7 linked regions of the Homo sapiens genome follow. The protein of the gene in region 6 purifies or fractionates together with the protein of the main gene of each other region. This does not show direct contact. Each region holds a gene or a part of one and is shown on either strand. Other genes may lie near its edges.

Region 1 (2,569 bases), on a different chromosome or scaffold from region 6:
AGCCAGGGACTTTCCCCTGGGTGGCACGCTGGGGAGTGGTGTCAGAGCCAGGATTTGAACCTGGACTCTCTGACCTTGAGACCCCTAACCATTCCCATCCCAAAGGAGACAAAGGAGATCAGTCTCACGGAGGGGACACTGAGGATGGCCCCAGGGCTCGGGAGTGACTATGGTTCCACATACAGACGAGGGAAGAGGCAGGATCCCCGGGTCACTGTTGGGGGAGCACTGGTGTGGGAAGCAGATGGAGGGGGGCCATACCCAGGGGCCACTCGGTGGGCCCACTGACCTGTGAACCTGGAGAAGAGGGGCATCTGGGTGGGAGCTGAAGGGCCGTGGGTCAGCCAGCACAGGGCACACCCGAACTGGGTGTCCCCTCGTGGGCTCCCGGGACCTGGCACAGGCTTACCTCGGAGGGAAGAGGTCCCCATCCCCTGGCACTCTATTACTGGGCTGTGGGCTGCTCACAAGTCATACACCATCACCCCTACACCAGCACATCGCAATGATCCCACTTCATTTATTACCAAAATATCACAGAATTCCAGTCATAGTTAACATACAGCGTTTAACACGAACCTGATACCTGTAGAAAGAACTGAGTATCGGGACAATTGAGTCGTTGGAACTGTAAGCCACGCCCCAAACCGCATCACTCCGTACTTCAAAAATACGATTTTTTGAGAGCTTTGGAAACTGAATTAAAATGTCTACACAGCTATGAACAATTGTTTAATAAAACTTTTTCATGTTTCCATTACATGTAAATATATCAATTTGGCATCTCTATAAAAACTCTGAAAATGGTGCAAAAGTTTCATTCTCTTTGAGAAAGCCATTGACAAAAAATATTCACACTTCACTAAAATTTTGAAAAATGGTCTTCTTTCAAAGCTTCTTTATTAATCTGAAGTCTTCTGGGTTATCAAAATCTAGGTTTGCTTTTTCCTCCTAAAACACTAAAGAACATTTATTCACAAGGATTAAAAAAAAAAAATAAAAAGGCAATGGGCTGATGGAAAACTGATAAGGGCTTTTCTTTTTTTTTTTCTGAAAATAATTTAAAAAGCTTAAAAGTTACATAGGCATCTTCAAAAGAACACAATGGGATTCATTTTATTGTTGACTTTTGGACACCAGTGTCAGACTTTATTGAAAACAAACCCATGTAAAAACAAAGTTAAAATGAAAAATGGCACCTGAAAAATAAATTATTTTATATAAAACAAATCAATAACTTAAAACACACTAATATACAAAAGGTCTAACCATCTACTGTACAACATGGGAATCGGTTAAGAGAGCCTCCCCTCCCCCAAAGCAAGTCACTGTAAACGGAACATCACATGGTCATGGTCAAAGAGGTGGCCCCAAACCAACGGAAAAGGCTTCTCTTCTGGTGGAAGAAAAATCCAGTCCTGTCAAAGTCTCCGTTAGCCTAACTTAGGTACTGGCGGTGACTTACAAGTGAGAAAAAAAAAATTTGTTTTTTTAAATGGCCAAGAAAGAAACCTGAACGATGTCACTGAAAGGTTGTAGAAAAATAGGATCCAGCCATTAGAGGTCAGGGGAAATCAAAAAGGTTTGGAAATGTGAACCCTGCCTGGGATCCGAGATTCAGATTCTACTGCCATCATTACACGCCAATTGCCAATGCCACTTAAAAGAAAGCACTTGTGACTTCAGGGCTGTCTTGCGAAGTTTGGGGACAGGAACCCCTGACCCCCAGAGTCAGCTAAACCCCAGGGGTCTCTGCTAAGGAGCTGCCTCAGGTCCTAGTAGGTGAGGTAGGTCTGGGGAAGATGGGAGGGGATTGAGGTGGAGGGTGGGGTGGAGGGACAGGATAGAGGCCTCCTGTCAGCTGAATTCTTATTCTCTTTCATCCAACACAGGAAGGCTGCGAAAAGCACATGGAAATAAAAGGGGGCTGAATCGGATGTGAAATGTAACAGCTGAGTGATGTCAATTTCGATTTTTCAAGTCCGATGCCGGACTGGGTAAGTCATGTCTTTTCAATGCCTGGTGGACAAATGGCCTTCATTTGGAAGCAAACCGGGTCAAGGAATTGCCACTAACCGTCTTCGGGTGCTTCTATTTCTCTGATCCAGCAGGGACCCCTGGGCTGCCGGCTCCAAAGGGCCGGTCTTGGCTCCCAACAGCAGCACGGTTCAGTCCCTGGAGGCTGGGTCTCCAGGACTAAGGCCAAGCGCAGACTCTCAGAGGTTAAGGCAGCTGCCCTTGGCCAGGAAAAGGCTCACCTTCCAGGAGAAGGTGGCGGAACCCACCCAGCACCACCTGCGGGCGGGCCCCCGAGGAAGCCCATGAATTTCAGGATATTCACGCAGGATGGTGGCCGGGGAGGGGACTCAGCACCCGGGAGGGAATCAGTCACAGAGCTGCGACTAGAGGCACAGCCAGCACAGAAAACTGCGGCTTGGCAAATTACACTGAAAACGAAATAATGGCAGAGCCAAGGGGGAACAAGGGAGAATTCATCAGGAAGCAGGTTCACAAATTCGGAGCTGCCTGGGGTCTAACTACCAGAGGAAGTTACACACGGGTCAAAAGG
Region 2 (3,500 bases), on a different chromosome or scaffold from region 6:
TCCAGCCTAAGCAACGGAGCAAGACTCCGTCTAAAAAAACAAAACAAAACAAATCTCTCATATGACTGATGTGTTCTTAAAAATCTTGTATAATAGTACGCTAGGCTGAAACAAAACCTCAATCAAGTTTTCCATGTTTATCAAGATCATTTGATTAAACCTTAAAGAGGCAATGACATTTTAATTTAATTTAGTAATCAGCCTGAGATATAATCTTCAAATTCCAAGTCTTGGATAAATAGCCCATAAAAACATGTACGTCGTACAGAGACTGCATTTACACACATAGATTTTCTCATAGGTTAATGAGCATACAAATCACCTTGAGGTCTTGATAAAATGCAGATTGATTCATGTCAAGTGGGCCTGAGATCTTACTTTCCTAAAAAGCTTCCAAGTGCTACCCCTGCTGCAGGTCCATGGACTGTATTTTAGTTAAAAAGGATATACCTTGATTTCATCATTACACATTGTGTGCATGTATCAAAATATCACATGTACCCCATAAACATGAACAGTTACTATTATTAATTTTTTAAGTTCCTAAAAAAATTTTGAATTTTTTTTTTTAAAAGAATGAATGAAGGCCAGGCACAGTAGCTCACACCTGTAATCCCAGCACTTTGGGAGGCCAAGGTAGGTGGAGTTCAAGAGCCAGGAGTTCGAGACCAGCCTGGCCACATGGAGAAACCCTGCCTCTATTAAAAATACAAAAATTAGCCTGACAAGGTGGCGCATGCCTGTAATCCCAGCTACTGAAGGTGGCTGAGGCATTGCTTGAACCCAGGGAGCAGAGGTTGCAGTGAGCAATGATCACACTACTGTACTCCAGCCTGGGCGATAGGGCGATAGAGTAAGACTGTCCAAAAAAAAAAAAAAAGAGAAGACAGACAGACAAGGAAGATGGACGGATGGATGGACAGACGGAAGGACAGATGGAAGGAAGGAAGGAAGGAAGGAATTCTTCAATCAGCAGGAAGGGTTTGAGACAAAATTTCCAGTGGCAGCACTGTTTTGATTTTATCAAAAAAAGCTTTATCTCAAAGAACATATAGGGATAGGAATTATGTTTTGCAAAACAGGTAACTCAAGAGTGGCTTTAGTAATGTAACGGATGACAAGAATACATGTGACATTTTAAAATAAAATTGTTTCTTGTAGGCAAAAGTGTTTGCAGTCCTCCTAAAAGGTGACCAAAAAACCCTATTTGTGTCATCTCTTCGACAAAATAGTGGTCTACCTTATGCTCAGGTGGTCCTGACATTTGACCAGGTTATTTTTAGTCTCGTGTATTTTGCTAATGAACTAACCTTAAAGGCAGGTGTGTGAAAACTATATCTTACAATTAAAAAGAGGGATACTCTAAAAGGGAGAGTCAAACTCCAACTGTCTAAAAGACTGGACAAGTAATATAAATGATAAGGAGGCTAAGAGAAAGGACTTAATGAGAAGCTGGAATGGCTTAATGAAGGGAGAAGCACACGTGCACCATCAGCAGAGTGACACAGTGCAATAATGTAGGACCAGTGTTCCAGGATCTTCCTCTTTTTCAAGAAACTGGAATTCTTTTTTAATTTTTTTTAAATTTTTTCCCCCAATGTGGATAAAAACTTCAAAAATTTAAAGATAGTAAATGTTCCTAGAGACCATTAGGCTGTAATCTGTAATCAAAAGCAATGTCTACATATCGGCATATTTCATATCACTGAAGATTTCATATTTTAATTATCAGTATCTAATGTGTTGGGAATTGCCACCAAAATGGGTAACATAGCTTTAACAGGAAATGTTCTGTACAAATATTAATACATCACCTTTTCAAATGTCCAGTGCTTAGAACCTCTGATTAAACCAGCTATAATTTCTGCAACACATCGCTGGGTGCTTTCATGTGAATCTGCAACCAAATGTTCTAAATGGGGCTTCAGAACTGGCAGGAAGGCATCATCAAAATTCCTGAATATACCCTATAAAAACAAAGACTGTTCTTCAGTACTCAAATGACTATCATCTCGATTATAATTATGCTTGTAATTATTCTGTACATTACTAACGTGCTTAAAAGCTCCAAGCACACTCCCCTTTAGAACTGCTTTAACAATTGCGGTAAGTTAAAATAGTAAGAATACTGTCATTTTAAATATCACATTAAAATGTAACCAATGAAACAAACATTAATAATCTCTCTAAGTATCACACCTCAAAAAAAGCAACTAAACATAAAAAACGCATGCAGTTTTGGGTATTTTTTTTCCTTCTAATGCCAATTACAACAAACATTAAAGATAAATACAGTCATCCCTAGGTGTATGTGGGGAAATGGTTTCAAGATCCCCACCCCAAAATACCAAAATGTTCAAGTCCATGACATAAAATGGTATTGTATTTGCATATAACCTATATACATCCTCCTGTATATTTTAAATCATCTTAAGAGTACTTTTAGGACCTAATACAATGCTTACTAATTGTATTATATATTAATGCTATGTCAATACTGGTTGTAATGTCTTGTTTAGGGAATAACGACAACAAAAGTCTGTACATGTTCAGTGTAAATTCCAGTGCCATTTTAGATCAAGGCAGATGGCTAGCTTTGATCAAATATTTATAAGTTATGAACCTACGAACTGAATAGTTACTAAGCATTACAAAGAGGATATGTAAACAATATAGTTACCTTAAAGAGGCAAAAACGTCGTGGATTAAACTTATCTTTTCCTTTTCTGTCTTCTAATGATAGAAAAGTAATTAACTGCTCAACAAATTTAGGATCAGAAAAATGATCAAATATAATCTGTTCTGCCTATAAAGTTAAAAAAAGAACAATATTCAGCGTTTAAAATCCACTTAAATACATGATTCTGAAAAAGTTAAAATTACAAGATTTTGATAGTCAAAAGCAGGCTGTATTTTTGTTTCCATGAATTCTTAGTTCTCATAGACTACAGTGATTTCTAAAACCAAGTACCTCCCTCTAAAAATGCTAAAACAGGAAGTTTTCCTTCAGATTCTCAAGTTTGAATCCTATTTCTCACACTGTGAATTAAAAATCAACAAATGTTCTGCTTGGGAAATGAAGACTGAAAGCCACTGTAACACCTGGTGTGCAATTTGTTAAAATCCCCAAAACTATAAGTCAAGCCCCAACAAATCACTTCCATATTTACCTAACACCAGAAGTTAAAAGGCAAACTGTTCAGAATCAGAAAAAGTTACAATACCATTAACTCAAGGACCAAGTACATAAACTTAAAAACCCTTTCTCAACTTTCTTTTTTTTCTTTTCTTTTTTTGGGACAGGGTCTCACTCTGTCATCCAGGCTGGAGTGCAGTGGTGCGATCATGGCTCATTGCAGTCTTGCCTTCCTCGGGTCGGGTAATTTTCCCACCTTAGCCTCCCAAGTAGCTGGGACTACAGGTGTGCACCACTACGCCCAGCTGATTTTTGTATTTTTTGTAGAGACAAGGTTTTGCCATGTTGCTCAGGATGGTCTCAA
Region 3 (4,049 bases), on a different chromosome or scaffold from region 6:
GCAATTTTAAGTAGAGTGTTCGAGGAAAGACTCACCCTAGGTGACAAATGACTAGAGACCTGAAAAAGGTAAAGGAGACAGCCGTACAGAGATCTGGGAAAGAACATTCCAGGCAGTGGGAAAGCAAGTGTAAAGGCTTCGAGGTATGAACAGAAGCACTCTTGGGTCTGCTTACCATTTGCTTTATTAGTGCCTCTTTACCCATTCCGAAAGGTTGAAGTGATCTTTTCACACTAAACACACACACACACACACACACACACACTCTCTCTCTCTCTCTCTCTCTCTCTCTCTCTTTTTCCCATGACTTAAAATAATGAAGCTGCCAAATCCCTACCTACATCCCAGAACACGTAGGAGCTCCACAACCTAATGGACGTCTCCACATGGTTAGGTCACAGGAAACTCACATTCCACATGTCCAAAACTATAAACTTTTGCCCAAATTTTTCCCCATATTTTGTATTTTAGAAAAGGGCGCCGGGCATGGTGTCTCATGCCTGTAATCCCAGCACTTTGGGAGGCCGAGGCAGGTGGATCACCTGAGGTTAGGAGTTTGAGACCAGCCTGGCCTACATGGTGAAACCCTGTCTCTACCAAAAATACAAAATTAGCTGGGCGTGGTGGTGCATGCCTATAATCCCAGCTACTCGGGAGGCAGAGGCAGGAGAATCACTTGAACCCAGGAGGCAGAGGTTGCAGTGAGCCAAGATCGTGCCATTGCACTCCAGACTGGGCAAAAAAGAGCAAAACTCCATCTCAAAAAAAAAAAAAAGTTCAATATTATTCAATCTACCTAAACTTCTTCCCATTCCCTTACCAACTACATCTAATACATGCCTAATTTTTATTGAGGCTATCCCCCAAGTATCCTTTTAATGTAGCTCCTCCTTTGCATTCTTCCAACAACTCCTTTTGTTTTCTGTCCTTCGGGTGTTCCCTCAGCATGTTCTCCCACTTTTCACTGTTGTCACCTACCAATTGCCTAGTTACCTCCTGCAATTCCCTTCTCAACGATTTTGCTACTTGGGTTAAACTCTTCTGTACCATCCTTCTTTTCCTCACAATATTGTATTATTCCCATCAGCACGTAAACATGCTCTAATATCTTTCATTCTAAAAGGCTCTCCCTTGACCCCACATAGCCCTCTAACTGCAACCTCATTTCTTGTTTCTCTATGTAGCAAAAATTCTCCAAGTCGTCCACGAAAACATAAGCAGAAACTTTATCTCTTATTAAAAAAAAGTTTTTTGAGACAGGGTCTCACTCTGTCGCCCAGGCTGGAGTGCAGTGGCACGATTTCAGCTCACTGCAGCCTCTGCTTCCTGGGCTCAAGTGATCCTCCCACCTCAGCTTCCCGAGTAGCTGAGATACAGGTGCAGGAAACCACACCTGGCTAATTTTTATTTATTTTTTTGTAGAGATGAGGTATCACTATGTCGCCCAGGCTGGTCTTGAACTCCTGAGCTCAAGCGATCCTCCTGTACTCGGCCTTCTAAAGTGCTGGGATTACAGGCATGAGCCATCATGCCTGTCTCTGAATTAATGACTGAATATATATTATACAACCCAAATCTTTAACTTGTTTTCTATCATTCATTCAACCCACTCCAATATGGCTTTCCTCTTCACCACTTCACTGGTAACTGTTTGTCCAGGTGACCATCATTAACATGTCGCTAAATCCAAACATACACTTTCTTCACCTTACACATCTCTGGGCTACTTTTGACATGGCCACTCCCTCCTTTTTGAAACACTCTTCTCTGGGGCTGTGTGTTTTATATGTAATGAATAAGGATGACACTTCCAGCTCTCTCCAGCCTTATACCACTCCAAACAGTGCATTTTCCAATGGTGCCTTCTGGGTTCACAGGGCCTACAGCCTATTCTCTCTCAATGTGTCATTCCAAATTCTTGGCAGTCTTCAAGTCCCCCTGCTTACTGACTCTGTTTTAGACATCCATCTTTCTGAAACGCCTACTTTCCCCTACTCCCAGCCCACGGGCCCTCCATCTTTTGCATACTACTTTCTCTATAAAGCCTTTCTTAACAAGCCATCTGTCCCTCCCCTCCCAATTATCTCAGGACCTTTCTATACCCTTTCAAGCTTCTAGCCTAGCATTTATTGCTCTTAGATTACATGTTTCCAACTACAGTGTAAATTCTTTGAGGGCACGCACCTAGTCTTATTCTAATACTCGCACATAACAGACTTTATTAAAACAATGAATGAATATAAAGAGCGATAAAACTGCGCTAACTACCGGCAAGAGTTAATGTTTATTGCCCTATCAGTAGTTCTCCGGTTAACAACGATAATATGCTAGCTTAAGACTAATTCTAAAACTAGTCGTAGAAAGACTTTCTAGGATAAAACTGAAGGATGCCCTGCAAAACATAAGTACAGTGTATCTAGAACGTACGAACACATCACGTTTTACAGGAAACAGAGACTACAAATTGTAGACTTGACTACGTTTGGTTTTACAGCCGACAAAGGTTCTGTTTGGACGGCTGCCTCCGGCTACAACCTCCCTGTTTTTTCCGGCCGAAAACATGAAATAGAAACTAGTGCCCTATTTCTCCCAAGGCACCGCCAAACACCCCGCGTCGGGGTGGCGACACCGCAGGGGCCTCGGGAGGCGGCAGCCCCGAGCGCAAATGGAGACTCACCATTAGGAGGGTGAAGCCGGCAAGGTCGGGGGCCGACTCCCCGCAGGGAACGAACATGGTCGCAGTGGGGTGGCCAGCAGGGACTAACCGCGGCCCTGGCAAGAACGAGGGCAGCAAGAAGGCGGAAGCCCGAGACCCCGGAGCCTCGCGGGGCGCGGGAGGGTCCTTTGAGTCCCTGGGCGCCGGGCCCTTGAGGCCCGTCCAGCTAACTGCCGGTTCAGAGGGCGGAAAGAGGCCGCCGGGTGGCCGCGAAGAGGGGCCAGCAGCGCTTTCGGAGACCCTGGCAAGCAAGGCGATGGGGTGCGCTGAGGTCTCGGGGTGCGGGGCCCGCGGGGAGGTGGAGCGGCGGGCGGAAACGATCAGGCAGCGTGCGGGCCAGCCCCAAGCCCTGTTTGTCCGCCACTGTTTGAAAACAGTTGGCGCCGCCGCCGCCGGGGCCTCATTTCCAGGTCAGCCCCCGGCCTGACGCGGCGTTGCGTCCCCCGGGAGCTGCGCTAGGCGAACGGCTGCGGCGCTTTGTGCTCCAGTCGCTCCTAACGCTCCCTGGCCCGGCCGGGGCCGCGCAGTTAGGGCATCTGAGGCGGGGAGAAGCGGCGGGGAGACGCCGGCTGCCAGCATGTCGCTGCCTCCGGAGAAAGCCTCCGAGCTGAAGCAGCTCATCCACCAGCAGCTGAGCAAGGTGAGAGTCGCGGGTGCTGGGAGAGACCGCCGGGCCGACCCATAACCTTTCCCTCCTGCCCGGCGGCCCCGGGCCGACAGCGGCATCTGCTTGCCGGGACTGTAGCGAGGATTGTGGGGTGCGCAACGCAGAGTAGGCAGAGCTTTGAGTTTGAGGCAGGAGAGCGTCCTCGTCTCCGAGAAAGAAAACGAGCCGAGCAGGTGCTAGCAAGAGTCTGGGGCGATAGAACGAGCGGTCTTGGCGTTTTAGGACGGCCGTGAGAATGAAGCGCTTAGCGAGCGACTTCTGGAAGTCGGATCGAGTGTAAGTTGTATTTGGAGGTTTATATTCTGCTGTAAGATATCAGGTTTTTTTTCTTTCTTGAGACGGAGTCTCTCTGTTGCCCAGGCTGGAGTGCAGTGGCACGATCTCGGCTCACTGCAACCTCCGCCTCCCAGGTTTAAGCGATTCTCCGCCTCAGCCTCCCGAGTAGCTGGGATTACAGGCGCGCGCCACCACGCTCGGCTAATTTTTGTATTTTTAGTAGAGACGGTTTCACCATGTTGGTGTGGCTGGTCCCGAACTCCTGACTTCGTGATCCGGCCGCCTCGGCCTCCTAAAGTGCTGGGATTACAGGCGTGAGCCTCCGCGCCCGGCAGATATCAGGGTTTCTTTACCGCTGAAACATGTGGGTATCAGCGAAGTTGAACCAGG
Region 4 (4,225 bases), on a different chromosome or scaffold from region 6:
CAGAATACAGGGGGATTTTCATTTCTTGAAATAGTGGGCTAGGTAATTGAAACCAATTCTCCACCTCTGCACTAAATATGCTGGAAATTTGTCAAAAATAATTTTTTTTTTGAGATAGGGTCTCGCTCTGTCACACAGACTAGAGTGCAGTGGCATGATCTCAGCTCATTGCAACCTCCACCTCCCAGGTTCAAGCGATTCTCCTACCTCTGCCTCCCGAATAGCTGGGATTGCAGGTGCCCGCCACCATGACTGGCTAATTTTTGTATTTTTAGTAGAGACAGGGTTTCACCATGTTGGCCAGGCTGGTCTCAAACTCCTGACCTCAAGTGATCTGCCCACCTCGACCTACCAAAGTGCTGGGATTACAAGTGTAAGCTACCACGCCCAGCCAAAAATATTAATTCTTAAATAGAAAAGCTAACAAGATAGTAAAGAATTTGGACACAATCTAGAAGGTGAAAACCAGAAATTAAGCCCAATATTCAAAATGGATTTCATCCTGAGGACTTCTCTGACCTAAAAGCTAAAGTTTCAGTGCCTTTATGAGATAACAGAAACAAGTTCAAGCCAGGAGCCCATCCAGGGAGTGGAGTCTGACAACTACCTCCCTCTCCATCTTAATCTTGTGCCCAAAAGAACTACAGCTTCAAAGTAAAGGTGAACTGGGAAGTAAAACAGCAGGAATAATGGACAACAGAAACAGACTCCCCCAAAGGGAATTCAGACAGTGGAATTAAACATAGAGATTATAAAAACAACTATACTTTCCATGTTTAAAGAAATAAAATTAAGCCTCAAAATAGTAAGAAATAAAAAACTGTAAAAGTGTCACAAACCAAACAGAACTTCAGAAACTAAAAATTGCAATATATGATTTAAGATTTCAGAGGCCGAGTTTAATAACAATGGAAATAACTTGAGAATAAATTATCCAGAATGTACTACGAAAGAACAGAGTAAAAGACATAGAGAAAAGAGTGAAAAGGTTTAGTTAAATCGATAAAAAAAAAAAGAGAAACAATGGGAAGAAGCAATATATGCATATAAAATGGCTGAGAATTTTACAGAATTAATGAAAGACACTAATCCACAGATTCAAGAAGTCTAATAAATACCAAACAAATTGAACAAAAACAAACCCATAGTTCCATAGAGCATAGTGGAAATACAGAAAACCAAACACAAAACAATCTTTTTTTTAAACTTGTCGATACTTGATTTTAGACAAAACAATCTTAACAACATATTCTATAGTAAAGAGTGAAACATAATATTTAAGAATGAAGACAAAGTATGTTCAAAAGGTGACTAATGGTGAACACGTTGAAAATGCTTAATTTAGCTGCCATAAAGGCATAATTACACTATGACTGACCCTGTACGTACATCGCACTTGTTACTTGATTTACCACATACGTGGTTTTCAATAGCTAAAGCAGCAGCTTGATTCTAACCAAGCATCACCATTCTTGGAAGATGAAAGTGAAGACTGATAATCAACTAAATGGTTTTGACACAATTATTCCTTTCTTATATCATGAAGCACTTCCCCACAGGGTAAGGACATGAAGACTTCAGTTGAGAAAGATAATCGGGCAGCCTCTACTTTCAGATCCTTACAAATTGTTCGCAGGTCATCTAACTAAAAGACTGTAAAAGCTGCTGTCGGCTCAATACTTTGTATCAAAAAGGAGTCTACCCACTGATTCCCTTCAAATATTTCAGAAGGGTGCCTTCCATTTTATGGTGTCCCTGTGGACACATGAATACACCAAATAACTGATGAATCGACAAATCTTATGTCACAGGTGGTAGGCAAGAGGTCATCGGGAATTCCGATCACCAGGCTCGCATCTGGCTTCTTGGGTCCCACTCCTGAACTAACCAGTCGGGCTACCCGAGCGTGCGGGAGTCTGAGAAACTGCATTTTAAAAGGGCCCCAGGAGATCTTGTTTTCCACTAACATTAAAGAACCACGACTACGAACAAACAGGTCTCCCCCTTTCCTCTGTGTGGACTGACAGTCACAAGGACCACCAACTCTCAAGCATGACGCTTCAACTCTCTTTGTTTCTTAAGTTTTCTGCAAAACGGGCCAGCTGGCTTGTTTTCCGTAATAGAAAATTCGCTTGGCACAGCAACTGGTACATGGCACACAATAAATGTGCTTCCCATCCTGCACTGCCATTCTGGGATTCAACCATTTCCAACCAGACGCCGCACATCCGAGTGAGTAACCTGGACCTGTTCCAAGACCTCTGGAACGGAGCCTGCTACTCACTTGAAACCTGGGTGGCCCTACCTAGCAGAAAATTGGGGAAACCCCATTAAACGCCCGGCAGTGTTGGGCCCGCCTGAAAGGGTCCTCGCCGCGACCCAGATGCCTTCCCGCGGGCACCCTCAGCTCCCCTCAGGCTGGGCCCGCAAGCCCCAGGCTTCGGCTACTCCGGACAAGGAGCGGGTGCGCGGACTGAGAACAGGCCTGGCCCTAACCCTAACAGCAGCCGCAGCTCATCTCTTCCGTAAGGAAGCTGGAACCCAGGTGTCGCCGCCAGGCCAGGACCGAGGCCGCACTCACCTACCGGCGCGCGGGAGGCGAGACGACCTCACCTCGGCGGCGCCCACCCCAAACCGCCACCGCAGAGCCGCTCGCTCTTAAAAAAGAAAAAAAAATGAAAGGAAGAAAGAAAGAAACAGAGGAAGGAATGAATGAAAGAAAGAAAAAAAAAAAGAAAATAGCCTTTGCTTTTGTATTTCTTTTGACCCTTCAGGGCTTCCTGTTCCTCACCGCCACAATAGAGTCCCGCCCCACTTCCGGCGACGTAACCCAATCCGCGGAGCTCTTCCTCCCCGGGAGCCCGATGGAAATCCGGTACCCTGAAAACGAGCCGGAGAGACTTGATTGGGCCATTCACGCCTCAGGATGAGGACTGGCCAGTCTGCGCCTGGAGGGCGGGCCGGTCCCGCTGATCACGTGACACGATTTTTGAAAGGTGATTGGCTGTCAAGGAGAGGGCTTGCCACCGAGGAAGGGGCGTTTCCTAGGGGACTGAGGGAGGGCTGGGGCGGTACGAAGCGGGGGTGGGCTCTGCGCGTAATGGCAGCGCCGTGGCCTCGCGTCCATCTTTGCCGTTCTCTCGGACCTGTCACAAAGGAGTCGCGCCGCCGCCGCCGCCCCCTCCCTCCGGTGGGCCCGGGAGGTAGAGAAAGTCAGTGCCACAGCCCGACCGCGCTGCTCTGAGCCCTGGGCACGCGGAACGGGAGGGAGTCTGAGGGTTGGGGACGTCTGTGAGGGAGGGGAACAGCCGCTCGAGCCTGGGGCGGGCGGACCGGACTGGGGCCGGGGTAGGCTCTGGAAAGGGCCCGGGAGAGAGGTGGCGTTGGTCAGAACCTGAGAAACAGCCGAGAGGTTTTCCACCGAGGCCCGCGCTTGAGGGATCTGAAGAGGTTCCTAGAAGAGGGTGTTCCCTCTTTCGGGGGTCCTCACCAGAAGAGGTTCTTGGGGGTCGCCCTTCTGAGGAGGCTGCGGCTAACAGGGCCCAGGTGAGAGGCAGCTATCTATCTCCTGGGGTGGCTCCTGGTACCGATGGGGTCCTGACCTACTCAGGGGTGCCCGGGATAGAAAGGGTAGATGAAGGGACGCTTTAGGAGGGTTCTTTTTGTGGAGTTTACGGTCTAGGTGGCACGGATGAGGCATACCTCCCCGGGGAGATTTAGAAACGCCTTGGGATAGAGAGAGAATGGGGCTAGGAAGCAGGAGCTAGAACTAGCGGAATGTCCTACTACGGAAGCCGGAGCTGAAAATTGGGTAAGGACCTTGGGGAGAGGGGATTTCTGGGCGGTGATGGGAAGAAGACACCTCCATCCACAGGAAAGCCAGAGTGGGGAGTAGTGAAAGGGAAACGGGAATTATTCCCTCTCTCTGTAGATCGACCAGGTGTCCCAGACACAGGATCCAACTGCTTCCGGGCTTATTGCCCGAGTGGGGTGGGGAGAGTCTATCCCACCAACACCCCTTGCGTGAGTCCAAATTAGGCATTTGTCTCTCCTGCTGCCTCACTTTCCCCGTCTTTGGGGAGGGAAACCGACTGAGACCGAGGCGGTCGGCTGAGACTCCGAGGTCCTGTCTTGTATAGTTCTCTGAGAGAGGTTGCTCCCCCTGGAGTGTTGTACTTTGAACTTTGAAGGGTTAGAAGTGTCTGTTATCGACTGAGTAGAATCC
Region 5 (3,500 bases), on a different chromosome or scaffold from region 6:
TCTTTCCACTATACTGGGGAAAAGATTCAGCTCAACTGGCATAAGGACACACAACAGGGTGGCTAGGTGTCCATGGAGGTGGGTGTCCAAGCGTGCACACATATGAGCATGAGTACATCCCTAGCCACCAGAGCATTGCACCAGGGTCTGCGGCTTTAGAAAGAGGTCAAAGTACCTGTATTTTTAATAATTTCTTGACATGGTAAAAGAATTTTACATTACGATCCATGGGTGATAGGGTGAGGAGGAGGGGCAGTGGAACAGTCCAACAAACGAAACGGGAAACTGAGAAACACATGGAGGGAAGGGGGAAGGGTTTTAGCTGGAAGGGATCTGGAGGGTGGGTGGGAGCACTGCCCAACTAAAATGCAATTGGTTTGTTACTGAGTACTATTCGTGGGAAGACAGCATCCTGACTCCCTCTCTACAGAATATTGGGAGTAAAAATGATGCATCCCCGGTGGAAATATTATTGGGGGTTGGAAGACAGAGACAGGAAAAATAAGTCAGAAACAGACACTAAGAGTCACTGGCAGGCTGACTGCAGGTATCAACTCTCCAGCCGTGGTAGAATAAAAGAGCTAGGGGCTGAAGGGGATTAACACAAAAGCTGTTAACAATTAAGTGATATCTCTGGAAGATTCGAGAGACAGGAGGCAACTCTTCTATAGTTTTGACTTGCCCAGCACATTTCCACATACACAAATGTGTATATGCACGTGTGTGCATGCACATACACATACACACCAATGATTGCTTTCCCCGGAAGCCCGACACTATAAATAAAGAGAAATAGTTCCCAAAAGGAAAGCCCAACATGAGCAGCAGCATCTGGACCTCACACTTGCAGAAACCTTCACCCCAACTGAAAACTGGCTGGGAAAAGGCAACCAGGAGTCAAGCTCTTGCAATAATGCCAAAAAGGGCTGAGTCAGAGAGGAACAGGCTTTCCCCAAGCCCTCTGCTTCTCATCTCTCTGTTCTCCACCAACTCACCCTGGGTACCAAGAGGCTACAGTATCAGGAGGGAGGACGGGCCCAGGACGTTTGTCTGGGTAGATGACAACTAAGACAACTGTCACCTCCTGAAAGGTATGTGACAGGGGTTGTGGAGAGGGAGGGTATGTTAGCTAATGGAGTAGGAGTCTGTGTGTGCATGTCTGTATGGGCGTATACATGCATACACATATGTGCATGTGAAAACGCCCATTATAAAAACAACTGAAGGAGCTTCGGAATTGACTGAAGGCCTAAGGTATTTCTTGTCACGATCAAGATTCAAAGTGGGATGTACACAGATGGGAAGCCCTAAGTCATCACCAGGGCAACTGTGGGAGGATCCAATGCCCCACAGAGGAAAGAAACAGTAACCTCATGTGAGGAAGAGAAGTTCGTCCCCCCGCCACCCTAGTTCCTAAAAAACACCTAGCACTTTCCTTCCGGTTCCCTCAGCTTTTAACCAACTAATTATCAAACGGAAGAAAACATAAAGCGCAAGACACAGGAGGGAGAGAGGGGGAGAATGAAAACACAGGTATTTTTGTGCCAACATCCTGCACACACAAACCTGGAGTTCTCCAGAAATTACGACAGGTTGGGTGTGGGGTATTAGGGAAGGAAATAGAAGAGTTCCTGAGGCCTGAAAAAAGAGGTAAACACATCACAGAACTAGATGAGAGTTTCATTAGACTCTAACTAAAAACAGAGAGGTGTGATTACTATTTCCAGCCAGTTTCCCCATCACGATAGTCATGTAACAAACCAAGGCAATGTCGGTCTTGAGCCAGACTCACAGAGTCCCCTGGCCCTGGCCCTGGCCTCAGTACAGAGTCTCTGCATTGCTGCTCCGGGGCCGTTTGATCTTCTCGATATTTTTCAGGATCATGTCATGTAGAGTGACCTGAGAGAAGAGGGATCAGGGGAATCACATATCTGTACAACCCTTACCTCATCAAGAAAATGAGAGACCCCTTCACAAATCCCCAAGCAATCATCTGCATACGGTAAGTCCTTAATGTCATCAATAGGTTCTTAGCAACTGCGACTTGAAGGAAATTAAAGTACAGCAGGTAAGCAAATCAAGTACAGAAGGTCCTCAAATAACCTGGTTTCAAATAACATCATTTTGTTCGATGTCATTTTGTTACAATGTTAATGAAAAAAAAACTTGGTTTTGATATACATCATTTTTAAAGTCGCAGTTTCTAAGAACCTATGGACAACATTAAGTGAAGACTTACTGTATTTTTTTTTTTTTTTTTTTTTGAGACACGGTCTTGCTCTATCGCTCAGGCTGGAGTGCAATGGCGCGATCTCGGCTGACTGCAACCTCCGCCTCCCAGGTTCATGCCATTCTCCTGCCTCAGCCACCTGAGTAGCTGGGACTACAGGCGCCTGCCACCACACCCGGCTAATTTTTTTTATTTTTAGTACAGATGGGGTTTCACCATGTTAGCCAGGATGGTCTCGATCTCCTGACCTCGTGATCCGCCCGCCTCGGCCTCCCAAAGCGCTGGGGTTACAGGCGTGAGCCACTGCACCCGGCCAACTTACTGTAATTTTAATCTCACTTGAGCCTGCATTCAGGGTGGCAGCACCACCTCTCTTATACTTCAACTGGGTATAAATGGGTATTTCCAAGGCCCCAAGTGTCTAATAACAACTAACATGTATTGTGCACTTAACATAGTAAGAATTGTACCAGGTCCTTCAATGTGTTATCTCACTTATTTTAAAAAAGCGAATGAATTTTGTGCAGTAGGTACTCTTCAGTTTTGTTTTCTTTTTTTGAGACGGAGTTTTGCTCTTGTTGCCCAGGCTGGAGTACAGTGGCACGATCTCGGCTCACTGCAACCTACACCTCTTGGGTTCAAGCGATTCTCCTGCCTCAGCCTCCCGATTAGGTGGGATTACAGGGGTCCGCCAACCATGCCCAGCTAATTTTTTGTATTTTCAGTAGAGATGGGGTTTCACCATGTTGGCCAGGCTGGTCAAAAACTCCTGACCTCATGTGATCCACCTGCCTCAGCCTCCCACAGTGCTGGCATTACAGGTGTGATCCACCACACCCGGCCTCTTCAGTCCCATTTTATTTTATTTTATTTATTTTTATTTGAGGCGGAGTTTCGCTCTTGTTGCCCAGGCTGGAGTCCAGTGGCGCAATCTCGGCTCACTGCAACCTCCGCCTCCCGGGTTCAAGCAATTCTCCCGCCTCAGCCTCCTCAGTAGCTACGATTAAAGGCATGTGCCGCCACGCCCGGCTAAATTTTTTTTTTTTTTTTTTAGTAAAGATGGGGTTTTTCCATGTTGGTAAGGCTGGTCTCGAACTCCTGACCTCAAGTGATCCACCCACCTTGGCCTCCCAAAGTGCTGGGATTACAGCCTATTTTTATTTTTTTTTTGAGATGGAGTTTCGCTCTTGTTGCCCAGGCTGGAGTGCAATGGAGCAATCTTGGCTCACCGCAACCTCCAACTCCCGGGTTCAAGTGATTCTCCTGCCTC
Region 6 (3,500 bases):
TACTCTAGTGGTAGAGGGTACCCAAACAGCAGCTGGAGGATGACTGGGAGGCAGGGAGGCTGAACTGGGAGGTGCAACTAAGAGCCTGTCTCTGGTCAGTCAGCTGACGAAAGAATGAGACAATCCAGTGTTCTGTTCCCCATAGTCTGTTACCCATCAGTCTGGTAAACACAGACGTCTCTCTTAAAATGTCTCAAGATAATAAGCTAACAAAGAGTGATTGTCCTCAGAACGAAGCAGAGGCCAGGAGCTGTGGCTCAGGCCTGTAATTGGGAGGTTGAGGTGGAAGAATATCTTGAGCCCAGGAGTTCAAGACCAGCCTAGGTAACATAGCAAGACCCCATCTCTTAAAAATAAAATGAGCTGGGCATGGTGGTGCCTGTCTGTAGTCTCAGCTACTTGGGAGGATCGCTTGAGTTCCAGAAATCCAGGCTGCAGTGAGCTATGATGGTGCCACTGCACTCCACTCCAGCCTGGGCAACAAAGTGAGATCCATCTCTTAAAAAAAAAAAAAAAAAGCGGGGGGTGGGGTGGGCACTGTGGACTGAAAACAAAAGGTTTGTGTAAGAAGCAAACTGACATTACTCCCAACGCTCCTGCTCTTATCTTCCTACTCTCTTACTAAACCACGAGGTCAAGTTCATCCTTAAGCCACAGGAACAGTAAAAGAATGAAAAAAACTAATGTGGCTGGTTTTTGACCTCCCCATTCCCCCATTCTCCATCTATACCCAAAGCCTTAGACTCTAAGGAGTAGTGTTAGAAAGGGTGTGTTCTGTAATCCTGTCCTCGCAAGCCAAAGTCTACTCTCCCCTTCTGCCCAAAGCTTCCTAGTTGCTTTCTATGGTCCTCCTGAATTCTTAGGGGAGGCTTTTTCTCACAGATTACAAAGACTCGAGCACTATTAAGGGAGCAGGCAGTATGGCAATTACAGGTGGCACAAGAACAGAGCAGGTATAAAGTCTAGGGCAGGGATGGGCGTGGTGGCTCATGCCTGTAATCCCAGCACTTTGGGAGGCCGAGGCAGGCGGATCACCTGAGGTCAGGAGTTCAAGACCAGCCTGGCCAACATGGTGAAACCCTGTCTCTACTAAAAATACAAAAAACTAGCCGGGCATGGTGGTGGGCAACTGTAATCCCAGCTACTCGGGAGGCTAAGGCAAGAGAATTGCTTGAACCCAGAGGCGGAGGTTGCAGTGAGCTGAAATCGTGCCACTGCACTCCAGCCTGGGCAACAAAAGCGAAACTCCGTCTCAAATAAAAAAATAAAGTCTAGAGCAGAAGTTCTTCAAGTACAGCCTCAGTTACCACCTGTAGGAAAATCACCTGGGACTGCCAGTTAAAGCAGAGCTTCCCAGTTTGTACCTCAGAACAGTGGACTCAGAATTGAGGGTTGGGGCAGAGATGGCAATCTGTTTAACAGGTTTCCCAGGTGATACTTACACACACTAAAATTTGAGAACCACTGGTTTGGATAAACCAGAAAGAATTAAATTATAAAACTGACATTGAGGAGGTAATCTGTGAGAGAAAAGTGAGCTTGCTATCCACACCAAACTCTATCCCTGGTAGCAACTTCACATCTGGTTAGTGGGTATGTATTACACCTTCTGGCAAAAATCTGAAAAAATATAACTGAGGAACAGGAACAACACTGGCAAACAGAGAGACAAACATTCCTTTCAGGATCCTATGGGAACTACTCACCTCCTCCAGACATTTCCTAAGGAGTTCCACTGCCCTCTCACGTGAGATAGCTGAAAGAGAACACAGAGACCAAATACTTCCGGTGCTGTCATTATATCCAACTCTCAGAAGCTTTTGATTAAGTTCCAAATCTGGCTTCTTCAGGTCTCAGTGCCACACAAACGTAAAAGGCAAAAAATGCTTTGCCTTCTAGCCTGCAATCAACTTACTCCACATGCAGCTGGGGGGGCCCCAGACCCAGTGCTCCAGCAGCTATAAGCCATTGCAAATTGATTTGCTACAGTAAAGGGTGAGCATGAAGGAATTCTGCCTCCCCTGGCCAGGGCCCACCTCTGAAGAAGTCCAGCAGCCTGTCTCTCTTTATCATAACCCACCCCTTTCACTCCCCCTTAGTCCAGGGTTTGAATCAATTCCATCTGCCCCAGTCAGCTGCAAATCAGGGAAAGAGACGATGGGGTCAGAATTTCAGCCTTGTTTTCCCAGCTGGGTCTCTGTTTAACAATGGGAAGAGAATTCATAGGATGGGGCTGAGACTCTCCCCAAATAGGAGCCAAAGGAACTGTCTGTGGGCGTGGCAAACTGGGACGACATGTTATGCACTCAGGCTTCAGGGGTGGCTAGTAGTTATTTTGGTGGGCAAATCAGCTGTATTACTGACAGATGCCAAATCAAGAAAGTCACTGGGAGGCCAGGCTAATTCTTTTCAGGATGTGGCCTGGAGCTCTAGCGTGGCTAAGGTTGAGCGAGAGGGCAGCACCAAAAAAGAATGAACATGCCAGATTCTTACGATACTGACAGTGAAGAATGGAATGTAAGGAGAGAAGTGGTTATCTGTGCTTCATCTATAGTCTGTAAAAGCTAAGAATTCCAAAGTACCCACTGCCCACAGAGGCTAAAGTCGAGGTTAGGACTGGGGTCAGAAGATGGAACTTAGCACAAAAGCATCCCTGTGTCTAGGAAGTCCTAACCAGAGCACTTAGGCAAGGGGAGGAAATAGAGTACCCCAATTGGAAAGCAGGAAGTCAAATGTCCCTATTTGCAGATGACATGATCTTCTATATAGAAAAACCTAAAGACCCCACCAGAAAACTCTCACATCTGATAAATGAATTCCATAAAGTTGCAGGATACAAAATTAATATACAAAAATCAGTATTTCTATACACAAACTAGCTGAAAAAGAAATCAAGAAGGCAATCCCATTTACAATAGACACAAAAATCAAAGAAAATAAAATACCTAGGAATAAATTTAACCAAGGAGATGAAAGACCTCTATAACGAAAACTATAAAACACTGATGAAATAAGCTGAAGAGGATACAAGCGAATGGAAATACATCTCATGCTCATGGATCAGAAGAATTAATATTATGAAGATGACAACACTACCCAAAGAAATTTATATATTCAATGCAATCCCTATCAAAATGCCAATGACATGCCTCACAGAATTATGGAAAAAAATCCTAAGATTTGTAAGGAACCACAAAAGACTCTGAATAGCTAAAGCAATCCTGAACAAAAAGAACAAATCTGGTAGTTGATACCACTACCAGACTTCAAAATATATCACAAAGTTGTAGTAACCAAAACAGTATGCTACTGGCATAAAAATAGACACATAGACCAATTAAACAGAATAGAGAAATTAAGAAATTAAGCCACATATCTACATTTGACTTTTGATGAAGGTACCAAGAACACTCATTGGGGAAAGGACAGTCTGTCTCTTCAATAAATGGTGCTAGAAAAACTGGATATCCATACACAGAAGAATGAAACCAGACCCTCAC
Region 7 (4,220 bases), on a different chromosome or scaffold from region 6:
AGCAAGACACTAAATCACAGATGCTCAAGGGCCTAATAGAAAATGACATGGTATCTGCACATAACCTACGACCATTCTCCCATATACTTTAAATCATCTCTAGATTACTTATAATGCCTAAGGTAAATGCTATGTAAATAGTTGTTATACTGTATTGTTTAGAAAATAATGACAAGAAAAAAGTGTGTACATGATCAGCACAAATGCAATTTTTTTTCTCCAAATATTTTCTATCCACATTTGGTTCAATCCATGGATACAGAGGGCTGACTGTCCTTAATGCCAATGAATTATACTCTTACAAATGGCTAAATGGTCAATTTTATGTTATATATATTTTATCATAAGCCACTAAAGATTCTTACACAGGAGAACAATCTATGTATCATTTTAGTAAAATTTAGACTGAGAGTGCATAAAGCATAGAGGTTAAAAAAAAAGAAAAAAGGTTTAAAATAGGGTTGGAAAGGAAATGAAATAGGTGCTGGAGAAACTATGCCCTCAGTCTAAACTGGGACAGCATTAACTTTGATCTAAGAGGATTCTTACAAGATTTTACTGAATACAGTTGTTTCTGAGTCTAATACTGACCCGTCATATACATAATTCTGGGGTTCTATTGACAATGAGTTTAGACAGGATGTATTAATGGCCAATAAGTTCGAGGAATATTAAAGGTAAATACAATAATCTTACCAGATTTGTAAACGTAATATAAATATGCTTTTGAACTTACTCTAAATCCAAACATTAATTTTCCCTCGGTTTTTACAAAGAAAAAAAATTTTAATTCCACTAAAATACCTTTTTAAATGTAACAGTTCCTTACCAATCAATGTCTGCAGTTATGCTTATGCTTAAGTGACACCACACTGATAGAAAAAACCTTCCTTCGCAGCAATGTTTCCCCAGTTTTCTCACTTCAATCAATATTTATTTATTATTTTATTATCTCTCCCACTGCTATGGTAAGGGAGAAAAACAATATATCATTGAGGGACAAAAATATAAAAGCTTCGACGGGCCAGAATTAGAATAAGTGAACTAAAAGTGAGGTGAGGTTCCTTATTGAAATCCTATCTTCCCTTTTCTACTGTGGCCTAGATACTTAATGTACTACAGGTATTCCCCTATTATTAAGAATACAGACATCACAAAATTGCTAAAAATGAGAAGACACATTTATAGAATTCTAACATTCCTTTTAGGTGTTTTATATATATGACATCACTTATCCTTTTAAATTTAGTAAATGCAAAATTCCGTATATCATATGGGTACTCTAGCCCACCATATGAAATGCAAGGTACTATCCTTTTTCAATTCAGTGTAAGAGAGACTGGTCCAAAAATAAGTCTTAACTTGTTTTCATATCTATCTGCATCCATTCCCTAAAACGATATAATCCTAATGCCACCATTTATATACTCAACATTTAGTGAACCATCTAGTAGAAACTTTGTTTTTTGCTCTGAAATTCAAAATGGAATTTTGTGTTTATACAGTTATTTGGACAAGAAAGTGTGTTACATAAACAGTGATACCAGCAGTAGACTGCTCCAAGTTAGATGTATAAATAACGCCAAGGGGTCAAGGAAAATAAAGCGGAAACCTCTCATACTTCTAACTAAATACTATCGACATACACAAGGAGAGATCTGTGAAACACACACACACGCTGAAATCTTGGTTCTCAACGCCGAGTTCCAACATGTCATTCTTACAAAGGAACTTTACTACACATCCACTATAAAAGGTCCACCTTTTCTACGACCTATAATTTTGTTGATATTTACCAAAGACAGTTAACATTTTTCAAGATCCCTGTCCTCTTAAGTGAAAAAACAGAGCCGGGTCAAACTAAGACATCCGGCCAACTGTCCACCTGAAATATATTATATATGTACTGTCGTGTGTGACCAGTTGCAATCGCATACATAGGGGAGCCTAAGCTACAAGTTAGTGGCCGAACGAGGAAGAAAAAAGTTCAAATAATTTAAAAAGCACCCTAACCCAACGTTAACTTAGTTCGAAATGCATTAGCAGAAATTCAGGACTCAGAGCTACGCATATTAGTTAGATCGCCCCATCTGAATCTTCAAAGGCTTTAGAGAGATGTAGGTGGTGAAGAGAAACAAAGTGTTCGGTAAATTAAGCTTTTGGAGCTCTGGAGATGCAAATGACAGCTGGCTCTGCAGAAAGAAGGGGTCAGGCTCAGGCAAGGGTGGCTGCGGAGACTCCCACAGGCTGGAAGGAATAGGGGCGGGCCACCCCCAAAACCAGTTTGTCAAAGAATTGAAAAGGAGCAGGTGAGAAATCTCCTGAGCTGGAGAAGCCGGCCAGCCAGGCCCCCGAGCCCGTCTAGGAACCCCTGTGCATAAATGGGGGTTCACACCCGAGAAACGAGGCCTAATTCCGGCAGCTCCTGGGGCTGCGGCGACTGCCGGACACTCCGGGGCAGCAGACGGCTAGGAAACCAGGGCCAACAAAGAGTGAAAGGAAAGCAAGGAAGGACAGACGGGGACCCACAGAGCTCGAGCCTGGCCTCACCCTCTCATGGTGAACTTGACCACGGCGAGTCTGGAGCCCGCGCCGCTCAGCTCTGGCTGGAAATCCGGGTCGCTCCCGACGGGCTTCACCCCCACCATCCTCACAGAGAGCCCGGCAGGGTGGCCGCGACGCCACTGGCTTTGAAACTGAAGGAGAAGACGATCTGGGAGAGGAAGGAGAGATGCTCAGGAAGGCCGAGGCCTGGACAGAAGAGGTGGCGACCGCCGAGTCTTCTCCCGGGACTCTCAGTGCCGAGTCACGCCAGGGAGCGGAGCGGCCGAGGGGGCGGGGAGGGATGGGGGAGGGGAGAGGAGGAGGATGGGAAGGCGTGCGGCACCCAGCAGCCACCGCGCGGCAGGGCCCCCGGCGTGACGTCATTTCCGCGTCGTCCGGTTTGGCCTTCAGCGCCCAATCCCAAAACGCGAAGCGTAGTCCCACCCTCGACTGAGTAGCCTCGCGCTAACTTGAGCGGCGCAGGCGCAGAGGAGACGTGTAGAGGTCACGTGCGCAGGCGCAGACTGAGACTCAAAAGTTGGCATATGCATCCGCGTTTCCCAGATCTGAGGCTTTTACGGAGGAGGTTTCTGATTTGTAACAGTAGAGAGGAAACTCGTTTTACCCCGGGGTTCTTAGCTGCTGTCCAGGGCACCCACTGGAAGTACTTTGAAGATGCTCCTGTACTGTATTCGGGGCAGGTCTACATACAAGACAAAATAACGTTTAGGAATATTTATTAACAGACTTAATTACATATGGGGCGCTTTCTGTGCAGTCATTCAGAAAGTATCGTGCACCTGTCTTTAGGTTTTGACCAAAAAGATGAAGACACTATCCCTCCTTTAGGAAGTTCACGGTCTAGTGACCGACGCAAACAATAATTTGAATAGGAAGCGGTGGAGACTAACGAGATGGAAGGGTGGGGCAGGGTAAACTTGCTAGGAATCTGACTCCTGGATTGAATCTTTAAAGAGAAGCAGGGGTTAGATGGATGGTGAGAGGTAATATTCCAGGCAAGGGGACCACCAGGTGCAAATGCATGAGTTGAGAGGGTGGATAAGAAGAATAGCTAATATTTACCACATGATGTACCAGGCAAGACATAAGTTCTTTATATGTGTACTAGTTCATTTAATCCCTGTGAAGTAGGTTCTGTGATTTCAAGTCAAGGCAGGCTAACGCCAGTGTACTCTTTTAAATATTAGGCTAGGTGGCAAATTATCTGTCTTTGGATTTAGCTGGGGAGATGAAATTGGAGGGAAGGCCAAGGTCAGATAATGACTAGCTAAGGAATTTGGATTTTGTCGGGAAGAGAATGGAAAAATCATTTCAGGGCAATTTTGCAATTACAAGTGTGGTGAAACTCCCGTCTCTACCAAAAATACAAAAAAGTAGCCGGGCGTCATGGCGCGCACATGTGGTCCCAGCTACTCGGGAGGCCGAGGTGGGAGGATTCCTTGAGCTGGGGAGGTCAAGGCTGCAGGGAGCCATGATTGCGCCACTGCACTCCAGCCTGGGCAACAGAGCCAGACCCTGTCTCAAAAAAAAAAAAAAAAGGAAAAAGAAAAAGTGTCTTCAGAAAAGCCCTCAGGTAGCATCAAGGAGGATGGAAGGCAGTGAGATCCATTTAGGAGGATACTGTGGTGATCCAGGAACTAAATTAGGAAAGCATC

Evidence for each region.
Region 1: the proteins of PSMB2 (region 6) and ELAVL1 purify together in Homo sapiens (affinity purification with western blotting, with the first as the bait; one study listed by BioGRID). This does not show direct contact.
Region 2: the proteins of PSMB2 (region 6) and PSME4 purify together in Homo sapiens (affinity purification with mass spectrometry; 4 studies listed by BioGRID and IntAct, with this or other methods). This does not show direct contact.
Region 3: the proteins of PSMB2 (region 6) and PSMG2 purify together in Homo sapiens (affinity purification with mass spectrometry; 2 studies listed by BioGRID and IntAct, with this or other methods). This does not show direct contact.
Region 4: the proteins of PSMB2 (region 6) and PSME3IP1 purify together in Homo sapiens (affinity purification with mass spectrometry, with the first as the bait; one large-scale study listed by BioGRID). This does not show direct contact.
Region 5: the proteins of PSMB2 (region 6) and PSME3 fractionate together in Homo sapiens (co-fractionation; 3 studies listed by BioGRID and IntAct, with this or other methods). This does not show direct contact.
Region 7: the proteins of PSMB2 (region 6) and TXNL1 purify together in Homo sapiens (affinity purification with western blotting; 2 studies listed by BioGRID and IntAct, with this or other methods). This does not show direct contact.

Annotation. Positions count from the first base shown.
Region 1 is NC_000019.10:7,958,073-7,960,641, forward strand, and holds the end of ELAVL1 (ELAV-like protein 1), read right to left. Parts: 3' UTR 501-2,569; downstream 1-500. UniProt on the Homo sapiens protein: RNA-binding protein that binds to the 3'-UTR region of mRNAs and increases their stability.
Region 2 is NC_000002.12:53,890,994-53,894,493, forward strand, and holds part of PSME4 (proteasome activator complex subunit 4), read right to left. Parts: intron 2,807-3,500; coding exon 2,681-2,806; intron 1,968-2,680; coding exon 1,815-1,967; intron 1-1,814. UniProt on the Homo sapiens protein: Associated component of the proteasome that specifically recognizes acetylated histones and promotes ATP- and ubiquitin-independent degradation of core histones during spermatogenesis and DNA damage response.
Region 3 is NC_000018.10:12,701,793-12,705,841, reverse strand, and holds the start of PSMG2 (proteasome assembly chaperone 2), read right to left. Parts: upstream 2,801-4,049; 5' UTR 2,735-2,800; coding exon 2,678-2,734; intron 1-2,677. Other genes in the region: CEP76 (centrosomal protein of 76 kDa), read left to right, coding at 3,294-3,356. UniProt on the Homo sapiens protein: Chaperone protein which promotes assembly of the 20S proteasome as part of a heterodimer with PSMG1.
Region 4 is NC_000016.10:57,183,240-57,187,464, forward strand, and holds the start of PSME3IP1 (PSME3-interacting protein), read right to left. Parts: upstream 2,801-4,225; 5' UTR 2,582-2,800; exon of another isoform or gene 208-2,581; intron 1-207. UniProt on the Homo sapiens protein: Promotes the association of the proteasome activator complex subunit PSME3 with the 20S proteasome and regulates its activity.
Region 5 is NC_000017.11:42,839,897-42,843,396, reverse strand, and holds part of PSME3 (proteasome activator complex subunit 3), read right to left. Parts: intron 1,900-3,500; coding exon 1,819-1,899; 3' UTR 1-1,818. UniProt on the Homo sapiens protein: Subunit of the 11S REG-gamma (also called PA28-gamma) proteasome regulator, a doughnut-shaped homoheptamer which associates with the proteasome. 11S REG-gamma activates the trypsin-like catalytic subunit of the proteasome but inhibits the chymotrypsin-like and postglutamyl-preferring (PGPH) subunits.
Region 6 is NC_000001.11:35,603,527-35,607,026, forward strand, and holds part of PSMB2 (proteasome subunit beta type-2), read right to left. Parts: intron 1,757-3,500; coding exon 1,707-1,756; intron 1-1,706. UniProt on the Homo sapiens protein: Non-catalytic component of the 20S core proteasome complex involved in the proteolytic degradation of most intracellular proteins. This complex plays numerous essential roles within the cell by associating with different regulatory particles.
Region 7 is NC_000018.10:56,635,793-56,640,012, forward strand, and holds the start of TXNL1 (thioredoxin-like protein 1), read right to left. Parts: upstream 2,801-4,220; 5' UTR 2,649-2,800; coding exon 2,551-2,648; intron 1-2,550. UniProt on the Homo sapiens protein: Active thioredoxin with a redox potential of about -250 mV.